Regions from separate parts of the Homo sapiens genome. Here region 2 is linked to region 1. Evidence: fine-mapped QTL for protein levels in blood plasma. A gene starts in region 1. The other region holds a variant in brackets. All regions are shown on one strand. Distances are from middle to middle. Region 1 holds the start of CD70 (CD70 molecule). Region 2 has its middle 17 kb from the start of CD70.

The links. PIP is the chance, under the fine-mapping model, that this variant and not a neighbour inherited with it causes the effect. The UK Biobank Pharma Proteomics Project read protein levels with antibody pairs (Olink). The fine-mapping took linkage between variants from a reference panel, not from the people measured, so its PIPs are less certain.
Region 2: its variant is fine-mapped to the plasma level of the CD70 protein (UK Biobank, PIP 0.93).

What each region holds. Positions count from the first base shown.
Region 1 is chr19:6,587,092-6,595,414 of GRCh38, forward strand. It overlaps CD70 (CD70 molecule), which reads right to left and starts at 4,059. Exons shown (of 3, transcript NM_001252.5): 1 at 3,750-4,059; 2 at 3,012-3,045. The coding sequence starts at 3,911. It also overlaps the pseudogene RPL7P50. RefSeq lists enhancers at 1-129, 1,231-1,410, 1,701-1,780, 2,959-3,328, 3,829-4,228 and 2 more.
Region 2 is chr19:6,604,279-6,612,589 of GRCh38, forward strand. No RefSeq gene overlaps it. Among named protein-coding and RNA genes, the nearest start is that of CD70, 17 kb to the left of the region's middle. RefSeq lists an enhancer at 4,730-4,839. The variant C/T (reference allele first, on the strand shown) is at 4,084.

The sequences.
Region 1 (8,323 bases):
GGACGAGAGAGCTTGAGGGAGAGTGCACGAGAGAGTGCGAGAGAGCACGAGAGAGCAGGAGAGAGTGCAAGAGACAGCATGAGAGAGAGAGAGATCATGAGGGAGAGAGAGCATGAGACAGCGAGAGAGTGTGAGAGAGAGGACGAGAGAGCTTGAGGGAGAGTGCACGAGAGAGTGAGAGAGAGCACGAGAGAGCAGGAGAGAGTACGAGAGACAGCATGAGAGAGAGAGCAAGAGAGAGAGTGTGTGTGTGAGAGAGGACGAGAGAGCTTGAGAGAGAGTGCACGAGACAGAGTGTGAGAGTGAGCTCGAGAGAGTGCATGGGAGAGTGTGTGTGTGAGAGAGGATGAGAGCTACAGAGCTCGAGAGTGCACGGGAGTGAGCGAGAGAGTGCCTGAGAGAGTGAGACAGACAGCACGAGAGAGACAGCGTGCGCACGAGACAGCGCGCAAGAGAGTGCACGAGAGAATTCCCCAAGGGACGCCTGCTCGGGTCACACCCTGAACGCCAATAAAAGCTTTGGCTCCCAGGACCCTTTTTTTTTCTTGCTTTCCACCCGCTGGTTGAGTGTGTGTCTCAGAGAGCTCCCCTACCTTCCCGTTGGCCCTCTTCTCTCTAGGATCTTTATTTTCTTTAGAGACAGGGTCTGGTCCTGTCACCCAGGCTGGAGTGCAGTGGTGCAATCATAGCTCACTGCAGCCTCAGCCTCTGGGGCTCAAGCTATCTCCCACCTCAGCCTCCCGAGTCACTGGGAGGTGGCATGCGCCACCATGACCAGCTAATTTTCAAAATTTTGTTCTAGAGATGGTGGTCTTGCTATGTTTCCCAAGAAACATAGTCTAGAACTCCTGGGCTCAAGCGATCCTCCCACCTCAGCCTCCCAAAGCGCTGGGATCACAGCCGGGAGCCAAGGTCCTCGGCTATATTTCACGTGTTTCATCTCAGCGTCTCCTGTCTCCGCAACTTATCTGACTGACACACCTGAGCCTCACTCTCCTCCTCACTCAAGGCTCTCCTGGAGACTGGCTATCTTGTTAGGAAGGAACTGAACGGGGTCAAACAGGAGCCCCAAGGGTGTTTACCAGGCTTTGCAAATTTCCTGTAAGAGTGACACCTGGTCCCCTGTCACACACTTAGGCATGATATCATCCACCAGAAGAAAGAGCTGTCCTGTGAAAGACACTGTCAACACCTGTGGCCACCACCCCTGGTGCCCCATCGATGTGGGGCTGGACAGCCACTCTCCAGAAAGGGGCCTCAAGACCAAATTACAGGAAAAATATGGCAAAGGCCGGGGAGGGGGGGAAGATATATCAGGGGTCAGAGACCCAAGGAGAAGAGAGAGCAACAAAGGTCCCTTCCATTACAAAATGGAAGGAACAAAACACGCAAGCGTGCAGTAATTTTAGTCTCTGGGGATGAACCGTGGAAAAACAGAAGAGGAAGAAGCGTTCGAGAGAGGCTGGGAGGAGGTAGAGACTTCCACCTAGAGCAGAACTGTTCATTTCTTCTCCCTCAAGGCTTCTTGCCAATGCCACCCACTCAGATACCACCCCCCCACCCGACCGCCGCGACTCCACTTTAAATGAAAATCCCCAACCCTGGCATGCCCGGATTCCCCACCCACCTCCTTGCCTGATTTTTTCTCTAAAACCTGCTCTTGGCCTGTTTTACTCTACGTGGCATTGCTCTGTTTTTCACATGTTCGTTTTTATTTTTTTGGTCATCTCCTCCTCGGTAGGAGTGATAGTAGAAGGGAAGCTCACCAGGCAGGGATTTCTGTCTGTTTTGTGCGCGACTGCAGTACCGGAACAGTGCCTGCCCACTGCAGATGTATAATTAGTGCTTGTAGCATGAATGGAGGAAGGGTAGCCTTTCCTGTGAGCGTTTTCGTTTACTAACAAAACCCCTTTGATTCTTCCAAGGGAGGAGATCGAATGTGAAGGACTGAGAGGGAAAGGGAGAGAAAGGTAGTGGATGCCCAGAAACACAAACCTGCTCGCTCTCTCTCTCCTCTCTCTCTCTCTCGTTCTCTCCCTTTTCCTTTTTCTCTTGGGAATGATCTCTTTCTCCCCCGCCCTGTTTTTCTTCTTCCCCCTCTCTGTCTCTGTCTCTTCCTCTCTGTTATTCTCCTTCTCTTTTCCTCTCTCTGGCTTTCTTTCTTTTCTTTCTCTTATTTCTTTTTTTCTCTTTCTTCTTTCTTTTTCCTTTCTCTCTCTCTCACCTCCCTCCCTCTCTCCTTCCTTCCTTCTTCTCTTTCTTTTCCTTCCTTCCTTTCTTTCTTTTTCTTTTCCTTTCTTCTTTTTATTTATTTATTTGACAGAATCTCCCTCTGTCACCCAGGCTGGAGAGCAGTGCCATTATCTTGGCTCACTGCAACTTCTGCCTCCCAGGTTCAGGCGATTCTCCTGCCTCGGCCTCCTGAGTAGCTGGGATTACAGGTGCCTGCCACCACACCCGGCTAATTTTTGTAATTTTAGTAGAGACGGGGTTTCACCATGTTGGCCAGGCTGGTCTCAAACTCCTGGGCTCAAGTGATCCACCCGCCGCGCCCTCCGAAAGCGCTGGGATTACAGGCTCCAGCAACCACGCCAGGTCGCCTCTCTCGTTTTTATTCTCTCTTCCTCTATCTGTCTTTTTTCTCTTTCTCCGTCTCTCTCCCTCTCTCTCGTTCTGTCTCCCCCGCCTGTCTCCCTCCCTCCCTCTTCCACTCTCCCTGCGTCTCTCCCTGTTTCTTTCTTTCCCCTTCTTCTCCTGTCCCGTCTGTCCCCTCTGTCCCTCTCTCTGTTCTTTTTTCTGTCTCTCCCTCCCTTTCTCTGGGCCTCTCCCTCCCTCTCTGTCTTCTCTCTGTCTCCCCCTCTCCGTTTCCCTCCCTATCTCTCCCTCCCTCTCTCCCTCCGTCTCTGTCTGTGTCTCTTTCTCTCTGTCTCTCCCCACTTGTCTTTCTACCTCTCCTTCCTTCTCTCTCTGTGCCTCTTCTTCTCCCCGTCCCTCCACGTCCCCCGTGTTACCTGTGTGATTCAGCTGCAGCTCAGCTACGTCCCACTGGAAGAAAAGACCAGAAAACAGGGCACGGACGTAAGCAGAGAGGTTCTATGTGTCCCCTGTGCCAGGAGCTCTCTTTTCTCTGTCCATCCTCCTTTCCACCTCTCATCCCACGGCGCGCACTGGTGATTTTATTTCATTTTATTTTTTTTTACTCTTAAGACTTCTTAAAGAGGAAGCAGGTCTGAACCAGCGGGGAACGTGAAGTCGAGACCTTCAAAAGAACTTCTTCGTTTCCCGAATCGTTTTCCTGGATGTCACTGGGCGCGAGAGCACCGCGCGCAGCGGACTCTCTACGCTGCAAAGGCGCCCGGCGCGGTCCCCAAAGGGACCCCTCCCCCACCCGGAGCGAGTGGCTGGGGCCATCCCGTCCTAGGAGGCCCCAGGAAGCCCCCACGCCCAGCCTTGTGAAGCCCCCAGCAGCCTCTGAGTCAGCCTGCCGGGGGAACACCAGAGCCGAGTCATCTTCCATTTCCATGTGTGCCTACCTTTCCCATCCCGGGATCTCCCTGTACCTCCTGGCAGGGCTGCCTGTCTCGTAGCCCCTACACCGGGCAGCCTGGTCCCCGCCTCGCCTCCCTGTTCTGGTCTCTGTCTCTGCCCTACCAGATCTTCCTCTCTGGCCTCTTTGTACCCATCTCATTCTGTCTTTTCGGTCACGCGCCTCTCTATGTTTTCTTCCCAACTTTTCCATCTCAACTCACCCCAAGTGACTCGAGCGGCAGCTGCTGCTGAGCCTGTGCGAAGCGCTGGATGCACACCACGAGGCAGATCACCAAGCCCGCGACCAATGGGACCAAAGCAGCCCGCAGGACGCACCCATAGGGCCTGCGCCGCACCGAGCAGCCCGAACCCTCCTCCGGCATCGCCGCGGCGATCACCTCCGCTAGCGCAGGAGGGGCGATGGGGGCGCGGAGCGCTGCCGAGAAGGAAGGAAGGAAACTGCAGCCCCCTCCCGGGGCTCCTGGGCGTCTACTTGCTTCAACCTGTCAGGGGACCAGCCTGCCCCTCTCTGGGGATGTCCGGCCGGTCGAGGGGAGGGACTTGAGCAATTGGCGAGGGGAAATTCCCTCCAACCGCTGCCAGTCTGAAGATCCTAAAGTGGGTGGAGGCAGTTGCCAGGATGCAGGCAGTGGCCCCGGGTGAGCCTCAGAGTTGCCTGCCCCCAACCCCTCCCCGCCCGACCTTCAGGCAGGAGACATTCAATCTTCCTATTCCCCTCTCCACCTCATTCTTCTGGGGCCCATTCATTTATTCAACAAACCTCCACTGCACATTTATTAGGGATTAGATTGTGCTGTGCACTGGGGATACAGCAGACATCCAAGAATTGGGGGTGCTCCCCAAATATTCGTGTACCCCTCTCCTGCATTTTTTTGATTTGTTTTGTTTTTGAGACGGAGGTCTCCCTCTGTCACCCAGGCTGGAGTGCAGTGGCGCCATCTCAGCTCGCCGCAACCTCGATCTCCTGGGTTCAAGCGATTCTCCTGTCTGAGCCTCGCGAGTAGCTGGGAGTAACATGCGCGCGCCACCATGCCTGGCTAATTTTTTGTATTTTTAGTAGAGATGGGGTTTCACCATGTTGGCCAGGCTGGACTTGAACTCCTGACCTTGGGTGATCCACCCGCCTTGGCCTTCCAAAGTGCTGGGATTAAAGGCATGAGACACTGCACCCGGTCAGTTATCTCCTGCATTCTTGGAGACCACCTGCTTTTTTGTTTAAAGTTAAATTAAGTTAATATTTTTATTTTTTATTTTTATTTTATTTTATTATTTATTTTTTTTTTTTTTGAGACAGAGTCTCGCTCTGTCGCCCAGGCTGGAGTGCAGTGGCGCCATCTCGGCTCACTGCAAGCTCCGCCTCCCGGGTTCACGCCATTCTCCTGCCTCAGCCTCTCAAGTAGCTGGGACTACAGGCGCCCGCCACCACGCCCGGCTAACTTTTTGTATTTTTAGTAGAGATGGGTTTTCACCATGTTAGCGAGGATGGTCTCCATCTCCTGACCTCGTGATCTGCCCGCCTTGGCCTCCCAAAGTGCTGGGATTACAGGCGTGAGCCGCCGCGCCCGGCCTAAATTAATATTTTTAGAGACAGAGTGTTGCTCTGTTGCCCAGGCTGGATGCAGTGGCGCCACACAGCTCACAGCAGCCTCAAACTCCTGGGCTTCAGTGACCCTCCCATCTCAGCCTTTTGCATAGTTGGGTCTACCAGCACACGCTACCATGCCCGGCTAATTTTTTTTTTGGGGGGGGTAGAGGATAGGGTGTTACTATGTTACCAGGCTGGTCTCAAACATCTGGGCTCAAGCGATCCTGCTGCGTAGGTCCCCCAAAGTGCCGGGATGACAGGTGTGAGCCACCGCATCCAGCCTCCTGCTGCTGTTCTCGATGGCTGTAGTGGGTTAACGGTGTCCTCCCAGAATTCATGGCCTCCTGGAACTGCAGAATATGACCTCATTTTGAAATTACGGGGTTTTTTTTGCAGATATAATTAGGCTTAAATGAGGTCATACTGGATTAGAGTGGGCCCTCAGGTGGAGAGAAAAGAGGCTCATAGAGAAGGAGCCGTGTGAAAACAGAAACAGAAACTGAATGAGGCAGATGAAAGTCAAGAAACACCAAGAAGGAGCCAGGCGCAGTGGCTCACGCCTGTAATCCCAGCACTTTGGGAGGCTGAGGCAGGCGGATCACTTGATATCAGGAGTTTGAGACCCTCCTGGCTAACACGGTGAAACCCCCGTCTCTACTAAAAATACAAAAAATTAGCCGGGCATGGTGGCGGGCGCCTGTAGTCCCAGCTACTCAGGAGGCTGAGGCAGGAGAATGGCGTGAACCCGGGAGGTGGAGCTTGCAGTGAGCCGAGATCACGCCACTGAACTCCAGCCTGGGTGACAGAGTGAGACTCCGTCTCAAAAAAAAAAAAAAAAGAGTTGGAGACCAGCCTGGCCAACATGGTGGAACCCCATCTCTACTAAAAATTCAAAAAATAGCTGGGTGTGGTGGTGGGCACCTTTAATCCCAGCTACTCAGGAAGCTGAGGCAGGAGAATCGCTCAAACCCGGGAGGCAGAGGTTGCAGTGAGCCGAGATCACACCATTGCACTCCAGCCTGGGTGACAGAGCGAGACTCTGTCTTAAAAATATATATATTTTTTAAAAAGAGGATCCAGCCTCTTTTTCCGGCTGGAACCATGGAGGGTGTAGAAGAGAAGAAGAAGGAAGTTCCCGCTGTGCCAGAAACCCCTAAGAAAAAGCGAAGGAATTTCACAGAGCTGAAGACCAAGCGCCTGAGAAAGAAGTTTGCCCAAAAGATGCTTCGAAAGGCAAGGAGGAAGCTTATCTATGAAAAATTGAAGCACTATCACAAGGAATATAGGCAGAGGTACAGAACTGAAATTCGAATGGAAAAGATGTCAAGAAAAGCTGGCAACTTCTATGAACCTGCAGAATCCAGACTGGCGTTTGTCATCAGGATCAGAGGTATCGATGGTGTGAGCCCAAAGGTCCGAAATGTGTTGCAGCTTCTTTGCCTTTGTCAAATCTTCAATGGAACCTTTGTGAAGGCCAATTAACATGCTGAGGATTGTAGAGCCATACATTGCATGCGGGTACCTAAATCTGAAGTCAGTAAATAAACTAATCTACAAGCGTGGTTATGGCAAAATCAATAAGAAACGAATTGCTTTGACAGATAACGCTTTGCACGATCTCTTGGAAAATATGGCATCATCTGTATGGAGGATGTGATTCATGAGGTCCATACTGTTGGAAAACGCTTCAAAGAAGCACATAACTTCCTGTGGTCCTTCAAAGTATCTTCTCCATGAGGCAGAATGAAGAAACAGACCACCCATTTCGTGGAAGGTGGAGATGCTGGCAACAGGGAGGACCAGATCAACAGGCTTGTTAGAAGAATGAACTATGGTGTGTACTATAATTATTTTTCTAAGCTGTTCAATAAACATTACCTGCTCTCAAATGGAAAGAAAAATATGTCTGTATATACATACAGTTAGGGTCCCAAGGGCCTCTGGCTATGAATCATCAAGAAGTCAGTGTCATCAGCAGCAAACTCACAGCCAACAGCGCTAGAACTCGTGCCTGGGGATAGCTTCTCTAACACGTGGATTTCCTCCTCTGTGAGGCTCATCACGGCCTCCTTGCTCTTGGGGGACATTAGACAGGGCTTCAGCACTATTTGGGGGCTGTTTGAAACAGCAAAATTACCAACAAAAAGCAAAAAATTGAAAGGAGATAAAAATGGGAGATTTCAGAGCCTGAGCCTATAGCATTTGCTGGGTGGGTGAAGAGGGTGGTCAAAGAGGTCCAGAATTTTGAGGTATCCAGAAATCAAAATATCCTCCCTGAGATCCCCAAGTACTAAAGGGATTTCCTTCACGGAAGCCCTAGGACTCCAGGTCTGGGGGAAGCGGGTAGACAGCACCTTCAAGACAATCTCCTACCTTAATTTATTTAATATTTACTTAGCTGATCTTTTTATCAGCTTAAGATATAAATAGTTTAGATTCATATCATTAAGAAATAACTAATACCTTCTAAAAGATGGGGGAAAGAGAGATGGGGTGGGGTGGCTCATACATGTAATCTCAGCACTTTGGGAGGCCGAGGTGTCTTAGGAAAATCCCAAAATGAGACAGGAGCAGCCAACTCATAAAAATAAATACAACTGCTTGGCCGGGCGCAGTGGCTCACACCTGTAATCTCAGCACTTTGGGAGGCCGAGGCGGGCGGATCACAAGGTCAGGAGTTCAAGCCCAGCCTGGCCAATATGGTGAAACCCCGTCTCTACTAAAAATACAAAAATTAGCTGGGCGTGGTGGCGGACACCTGTAGTCCCAGCTATCTCGGGAGGCTGAGTCAGGAGAATCGCCTGAACCCGGGAGGCGGAGGTTGTCGTGAGCTGAGATCTGGCCACTGCACTCCAGCCTGAGAGACAGAGAGAGAGTCTGTCTTAAAAAAATAAATAAATAAAAAAAATACAACTGCTTATGAAACTGAATCTCGTTCACCACAAGAAAATTGGAAATTGAAAGCTCCGTGAAACACAATTTTTCTTTCTCTCTCTCTCTCTCTTTTTTTTTTTAAGATCGTGTCTCCCTCTGTCGCCCAGCTTGGAGTGCAGTGGCGCCATCTCGGCTCACTGCAATCTCCGCCTCCCAGGTTCAAGCAATTCTCCTGCCTCATCCTCCTGAGTAGCTGGGATTACAGGTGCCCACCACCACGCCTGGCTAATTTTTGTATTTTTAGTAGAGATGGGG
Region 2 (8,311 bases), 17 kb after region 1:
GTAACAGAATTTTGTGCCTCAAGTGCAAATTTCAAGGGGGCATCTCAAACTGTCATTGTCAAAATAAATGATATTCTCAGGCAACATTTTAAAAAAAATCTAAAAAGTGAAGGTCAAAAAAATTCATGATGAACAAATTGCAAAGATGTTTTAAAGATCAGATCCAACCCTACACTTCTACAATCTGCTTCATTTTTTTCCACCTTCATTCTGGTCTTGCAGCCCAAATTTGCATTCTGGCTCCAACACTTACCAGCTGTGTGACCTGCAGCAAGTGATTTAACCTCTCTGTGCCTCAGTTCCCTGGAAGTAATAAAAGTATCTCACAGGCTTGCTATGAGGTTGGAAGGAATTAATATTTGTAAACTGTTTAGCAAAGAGCCAGTACGTAGTAAGGAACTGGTGAGAACTATTACTATCATTGCTACTACTGAAACGGCCTCCTTGTCTGGAGTAACACCCGAGGTTCACAGTCTCACAGCCAAGGAAAACAAGGACATAGACATAGAAAGAGTGAGGTCGAGAATGGAAGTTTCATAGGCGAAAGAAAGAGGAGAGCTCTCTGCTGCAGAGAGGGGTCCCGGAAAAATGGGTTGCCGTATCAGCGGGGAAATGTAGGGGGTTTTATAGAGAAGCTAGTGAGCAAACGGTGTTTGATTTATATAGGGTGTGAAAAACTGGTTAGACCATGTGTCGCATTTGCATAGGGTGCAAATTTCTGGTAGCCTCTGACCCTAATCTTTTATTATGCAGGCAGGTTCTCTGCCCGAGCTGCGCCATGTTGCCCATTTCTGTTACTGCACGCGTGGTAACATAAAAGGGAAGAGGAAGCGTCCATGTAGGGCCTGCCTGGCCCCTGGGTAGCTCTCTTCTATTGGCGCACCTGCCGGCATTCTCCCGTGTAAGCTTCCAGCTGTGCCTATCTATGTTTGCAGCTCAATTTTTCAGGCTGCTGCTTGTTAGAAAAGAAATGATTTGGGGGCTGCTTTTTGTTAGAAGGGAAGCTCTGCCGAGGACTCTGCTGCCTTCACTATCTGCCTAAATAATTTCTTTCTACCTCCTGTATCACTACGACTGTTGCTATTATTAATCTGAGAAAGAGACTCACTCTGTTGCCCAGGCTGGAGTGCAGTGGCCTGGGCTCACTGCAACCTCCGCCTCCCAGGGTCAAGTGATTCTCATGCCTCAGCCTCCCAAGTAGCTGGGACTACAGGAGCCTGCCATTATGCCCAGCTAATTTTTTTGTATTTTTAGTAGAGACAGGGTTTCACCATGTTGGCCAGGCTGGTCTCAAACTCCTGACCTCAAATAATGTGCCCGCCTTGGCCTCCCACAGTGCTGGGATTACAGGTGTGAGCTACTGCGCCCGGCCTCTTATTATTATTTATTTATTATTATTACTGCTTTTGGAGACAGGGTCTTACTCTGTCGCCCAGGCTGGAGAGCAGTGGTGCAATCATAGCTCCCTGCAGCCTCCAGTTCCTGGGCTTGAGTGATCCTCCTGTCTCAGCTTCCTGAGAAGGTGGGACTACAGGCATGCACCACCACACTCAGCTATTTTTTTTTTTTGAGTTGGAGTCTTGCTATGTTGCCCAGGCTAGAGTGCAGTGGTGCAATGTCGGCTCACTGCCAGCTCCGCCTCCCGGGTTCACGCCGTTCTCCTGCCTCAGCCTTCCGAGTAGCTGGAACCACAGGTGCCCGCCACCTCGCCCGGCTAATTTTTTTGTGTTTTTAGTAGAGACGGGGTTTCACTGTGTTAGCCAGGATGGTCTCGATCTCCTGACCTCGTGATCCGCCTGCCTTGGCCTCTCAAAGTGCTGGGATTATAGGCGTGAGCCACCGCGCCCGGCCTCACATTCAGCTAATTTTAAAAGTTTTTGGAGAGATGGGCTCTTGCTATGTTGCTCAGGCTGGTCCTGAACTCTTGGCCTCAAGTGATACTCCCACCTTGGCCTTCCAAATTGTTGGGATTCCAGGCGTGAGCCACCACCCCTGGCCAGACTTTACACAATAAAGGTGTATTTAGGGCTGCTCTGCCTATGGAGTGGCCATTCTTTACTCCTTTACTTTCTGTTTTGTGTTTGTTTGTTTGTTTGTTTGTTTGAGACGGAGTTTTGCTCTTGTTGCCCAGGCTGGAGTTCAATGGCGCGATCTCAGCTCACTGCAACCTTTGCCTCCTGGGCTCAAGTGATTCTCCTGCCTCAGCCACCAGAGTAGCAGAGATTACAGGTGCCTGCCACCACACCCGGCTAATTGTTTGTATTTTTAGTAGACATGGGGTTTCACCATTTTGGCCAGGCTGGTCTCGATCTCCTGACCTCAGGTGATCTGCCCCCCTTGGCCTCCCAAAGTGCTGGGATTACAGCTGTGAGGCTAACACTCCTGGCCTATTCCTTTACTTTCTTACTAAACTTATTTCACTTAAAAAAAAAGTTTATTTTCTACTCACACAACATTCAGATCAGCAAGGGGTTCTGCCCATGGTAGGCTGAAATAGGCTTCTTCCTTTTTTTTTTTTTTTTTTGTTGAGACAGGGCCTCACTCTGTTGTTCAGGGTGCAGAGCCGTAGCACAATCTCGGCTTAATGCAACTTCTGCTTCCTGGGTTCAAGTAATCCTCCTATTTAGTCCCCCAAATAGCTGGGACCACAGGTGCACGGCACCATGCCCGACTAATTTTTTTTTTTTCATTTTCAACAAGTGTTTTGTCACCAAACATTAAAAACCTACACAAAATACAGGCCAGGTACAGTGGCTCACGCCTGTAATCCCAGAACTTTGGGAGTCCGAGGCGGGCAGATCACCTGAGGTCAGGAGTTCGAGACCAGCCTGGCCAACATGGTGAAACTCCCTCTCTACTAAAAATTCAAAAATTAGCCAGGCGTGGTCATGTGCAATTGCAGTCCCAGCTACTCAGGAGGCTGAGGCTTGAGAATTGCTTGGACCTGGGAGGCGGAGGTTGCAATGAGCTGAGATCATGCCACTGCACTCCAGCCTGGGTGACGAGAGCCAGACTTCATCTCAAAAAACAAAAATATATACAGAATACAAAGATAGTATAATAGACTTGTCACCCAGGTTGAACAGCTACTAGTCATGCCATGTTTGCTTCATCTATACTTTGACCCATTTCCTACCCCCCAATTTATTAGTTTTTTGGGTTTTCTTTTTAGATAAAATGTATACATATTGAAAGGTACAATCTGAACTGTACCATTTTGACAAATTAATACACTCATATAGACTTCCCCCCTTTAAAGAATAGAATTACTCCACTTACTAATCATTAATGTACATATAAGTTACGTCGAAGTAGTATTTACAATCCAAATTTTTATAAAATAGGTCAGAGTTTTGACTGAGAATTTTTTTTTTTTTTTGAGACCGAGTCTTGCCCTGTTGCCCAGGCTGGAGTGCAGTGGTGCAATCTTGGCTCACCGCAACCTCTGCCTCCCAGGTTCAAGCGATTCTCCTGCCTCAGCCTCCCGAGTAGCTGGGATTACAGGCTTGCGCCACCTCGCCTGTCTAATTTTTTGTGTTTTTAGTAGAGATGGGGTTTTGCCATCTTTGCCAGGTTGGTCTTGAACTCCTGACCTTCTGATCCACCCACCTCAGCCTCCCAAACTGCTGGGATTACACGCGTGAGCCACCGCGCCTGGCCGAGAATTTTTATTTTTAAAAAAGTAGAGATCTGTAGAGCACACAGTAACTACAATGTCTATTTATCTCAAGTAAATACAGTTTGATGAATAAAATTAAGGAAAATTCACCTAAGATGAAAAAAAAACAATCAAACCATCTGTGCAATATGCTATCTGTAGGAGCATTTGGTTAAGAATAACAAACTAACCCAACAATTTTATTATTTTAATAACCAAAATTGGCACAAATTTCTACTATTGTTTTCATAGAAATGCTCCCTCACAATAAAAAAATTTTCATATCATGAGAGCAAAAACAGCAAATATTTGAAAAAGTAGATGTCTTATAAAATTAAGTAGCAAAGGCCAGGCGCAGTGGCTCATGCCAGTAATCCCAGCACTTCGGGAGGCCGAGGCGGGAGGATCACCTGAGGTCAGGGGTT[C/T]GAGACTAGCCTGGCCAACATGGTGAAACCATATCTCTACTAAAAATTCCAAAATTAGCCAGACGTGGTGGCGGGCAGGAGAATCGCTTGAATCTGGGAGACAGAGGTTGCAGTGAGCCGAGATCTTGCCACTGTACTCTAGTTTGGGTGACAAGAGCAAAACTCCATCTCAAAAAAAAAAAAGAAAAATCACAGTTACCTATAATTCGATCATTCAATCAATCATCAGATAACTCAGCTCATTCAATTATCTGCAAGTGTAGATAATTCTCATAGCTTCCTATTAAAATTATGTTTTATGCCCTTACAAATTTTAACTTAGTTTTTCTTTTATTTATTTATTAGTAGGAGTCTCACTCTGTCGCCCAGGCTGGAGTGCAGTGGCACAATCTTGGCTCTCTGCAACCTCCACCTCCTGGGTTCATGCAATTCTCCTGCCTCAGCCTCCTGAGTAGCTGACATTACAGGCATGAGGCACCACACCCAGCTAATCCCACAGTGCAGGGATTAGAGGCATAAGCCACCTCCCCCTCCTACTTTTTCTTCTTACTTGGTCCGAGGGCTGTGGGACGGGGCCCCACCCCAGCCCATCACCAGAGACTTTTGGTCTTGGCCATGTGTCCTAAGACTTAATAGTTCTTGCACATTCTCTTGGTAATCAATTCAATTTGTTTCTTCCAAATCTTGCAGTAAAACTGATGTTCCAGCCAGGCGCTGTGGCTCATGCCTAGACGGTTTTCATCTTGACATGACCCTTGTGCTAGGAGTGTAAAGTAGAAAACCACAGATGGATACACATCATTGCCAGTCCCTTTTCACTAACCAAAGCGTGTCAGTGACCCTGCTTAACTTTAGTGGGTGCAGGGAAGTGGCATGCTTGCAAGAGTCAGAAAGAAAGCTGAAAATACTAGGTGGAGAACACGAATCGCTATCAAAACCCACCCATTTGATCACAGAAACTCAGCTCATGCTCCTTCCTGCTTGCAAAATACAGTCACCCCTCCAAGAGAGAACTCCATAGTCCCACCTGTAATGGCATCAAGCCTCTTTTTCTTTCCATGTGGTCTGTGATCATTCAGTAGCCTAGCCAAGCTTTTTTTTTTTTTTAAAATTACTGAACATATATTTCTGAGTTCCTGCTGTTTCCAAGGTATTAATACAATAGTGCAGAAATCAAAGTTCCTACCCTCTTGGAGATTGCATTTGATGAGTTCCCATTTGTGTCAGGCCAACTTTCTTGCATTCTGTTTTTATTTTAAAAATAAATATGGTCTCAAAAAACAAACAAAAACAACAGCAACAAAATGGTCTCAGTTAATATTCCAACAGCCCTGGGAGATAAGTAGTATTATCTTGAGATGCCTTTTGTGAATTTTCAGCAACAACTAGAATTTTAAAAACAATCCATAGATATTTCCATAACGTACGTATATGAAAGGACACAGTGAACAATGATAAGAAAACTTAGGTTTTAAAAAGGTTAAGTACCTTATTAAAGGTAAAAGCTGGCCAGGCGTGGTAGCTCACGCCTGTAATCCCAAAACTTTGGGAGGCTGAGGCAGGCTGATCACTTGAGGTCAGGAGTTCGAGACAAGCCTGGCCAACATGGTGAAACCCTATCTCTACTAAAAATACAAAAATTAGCCAGGCATGGGGGCGGGTGCCTGTAATCCCAGCTACTTGGGAGGCCAAGACATGAGAATCACTTGAAACCAGGAGGCGGAGGTTGCAGTGAGCTGAGATCGTGCCACTGCACTCCAGCCTAGGTGACAGAGTGAGACTCTGTCTCAAAAAGAAAAATAAATAAATAAATAAAAATAAATAAATAAAGCAAAGCCAAAATTCAAAACTCAAACTTTATTTTGACTCCAGAGTTCCTTTTATACAATACCTTTTCCTCTGAAGTCATGCCCCAGCTGATATCACAGTCAAAATACATTTTAAAGGATGAGTGGGACAGAGGTGTAATGGGGAAAAGGTACTAGTCAAAACTTTTTAAAAAATAGGCTTTTATGGGTGTGGTGGCTCATGCCTGTAATCCCAGCAACTTGGGAGGCTGAGGCAGGAGAATTGCTTGAACCTGGGAGGTGGAGGTTGCGGTAAGCCAAGATCGCTCCATTGCACTCCAGCCTAGGCAACAAGAGTGAAGCTCCGTCTCAAAAAAAAAAAAAAAAAAAAAAAGTCTTTTTAGAGCAGTTTTAGTTTCGCAGCAAAATTGAGCAGAAAATACAAAAAGTTCCCACACACCCCTAGAGCCCCCTGCTCCACAAACAATCCCATTGTTAACATCCCACCGCACCCGGCCGGCTCTGTGTATTTGTCTTCACTTTTTTCCCCTGCTTCTTGGATTTGCTAACTTTATGGTTGCCTTATCTTCAAGTTTGTTGATCTTTTTTCTACCTACTCAAATCTGTTCTTGAATTCGTCTAATGAATTATCACCTCCATTATTGTAACTTTCAGCTCCAGAATTCCTGTTTGTGAATTTTTAATAATTTATTTCTTTCTATTGACATTCTCACTTCTTTCATATATCATTCTCATGATCTGCTTTAGTTCTTTGTCCATATTTTCCTTCATCTCACTGAACACATTGGAGACAGTTGATTTAATGTCTTTGACTAATAGTTTCAATGTGTGGGCTTCCCTAGTAACAGTATATGTTAAATCATGGTTTATTGTAAATGAGTTATACTTTCCTATGTCTTTATGCTTTGTAATTACAACTGGACATCCTGAGTATTATGATTCATAAGTCTGGAACTCCGATGCTCCAAGTCTTCATGGATTGCTGATTTCTGCTTACTGAAGGCTGAAACTATTCATTTCTGACTTTTCCCGACTGTTTTTTGGCAACTGTGTATCCTTTGGGTGTGATCACTGAAGTGTCTTTTCCATTTTGTGGTCAGTTAGTAACATGACAAAGATTTTACAAGGCATCGAACCTCTAAGTCTGAGGGATACGAAGGGACTCAAGAGAGCCAAAACAAGCATCTTATTGGCTTCTCAGGAATTGCCAGACCTAGTAGAGTGCAAATTCCCCAAATTTTGGAGGCCAAGGTCTCAACTGCCTGCTCTGGCACTGGTCACCTGTTTGAGGAAAATGGACTGTCTCCAAATTGCCCCACTCGGACGGAGGAATGGGGAGTGGGGGCTGGTTTGTGAAGGCTGTTCTCTTTCTAAAGTCTCAGTCTCTCTTTTCATCAAGCACTCCTCTCATTATTATAAGTGCTGCAACAGGATGACTAGTTCTGAAATCATTGATTCTGTGTCTCCTGCCCCTCAGTTCACTGTTTATTTCACTGGAGGGAGGGGCTCCCAGAGCTTTCTACTCCGTCTTTTTGCTTGATCTCACTGTTTGCTGACTTTCTGAGATATGCCCAAACTCATATGGCTATTGGAAATTTCCACATTAAAAGTACTTCACCACATTGGGCAACATGGTGAAATCCTGTCTCTACAAAAAAGAAAAATACAAAAATTCCTTGGGTGAGGTGGCACACTCCCGTAGTCCCAGCTACTTGAGAGGCTGAGGTGGGAGAATCGCTTGAGACCGGGAGGCAGAGGTTGCAGTGAGCCGAGATCGCACTACTGCACTCCAGCCTGGGTGACAGAGTGAGGCTCTGTCTCAAAAAAAAAAAAAAAAAAAAAGGTACTTGACATGATAGTTTCCAATAAAAACATTTTAACCTAATTCCTTCATTTCACTCTTTAGCAATCAATATGTGAAAATTATATTGAACTGGTAAAAATGCAGGTTACAAAGATAAGATAAATATGAAATGCTATGATACACTTCTGACCACTGGAAGACATAAGAGAGAGTTGCAATGATTATATTTAATATTTTGGTTAGTAAACAGAGAGAACGCATCTACCCAGGGATTCAGTAGGGGTATGTGAAGATTTAATAAGGTAAGTAATCCTTAGTTTTTGAGAAACCAGAGATAGAAAATATGTTGGTGATTTTTTTTTTTTTTTGAGATGGAGTCTGGCTCTTTTCGCCCAAGCTGGACTGCAGTGGTGTGCTCTCAGCTCACTGTAACCTCTGCCTCCCGGGTTCATGCCATTCTCCTGCCTCAGCCTCCTGAGTAGCTGGGATTATGGGTGTGTACCACCACACCTGGCTAATTTTTTTTCTTTTTTGAGACGGAGTCTTGCTCTCTTGCCCAGGCTGGAGTGCAGTGGCGTGATCTCGGCTCACTGCAAGCTCCGTCTCCCAGGTTCAT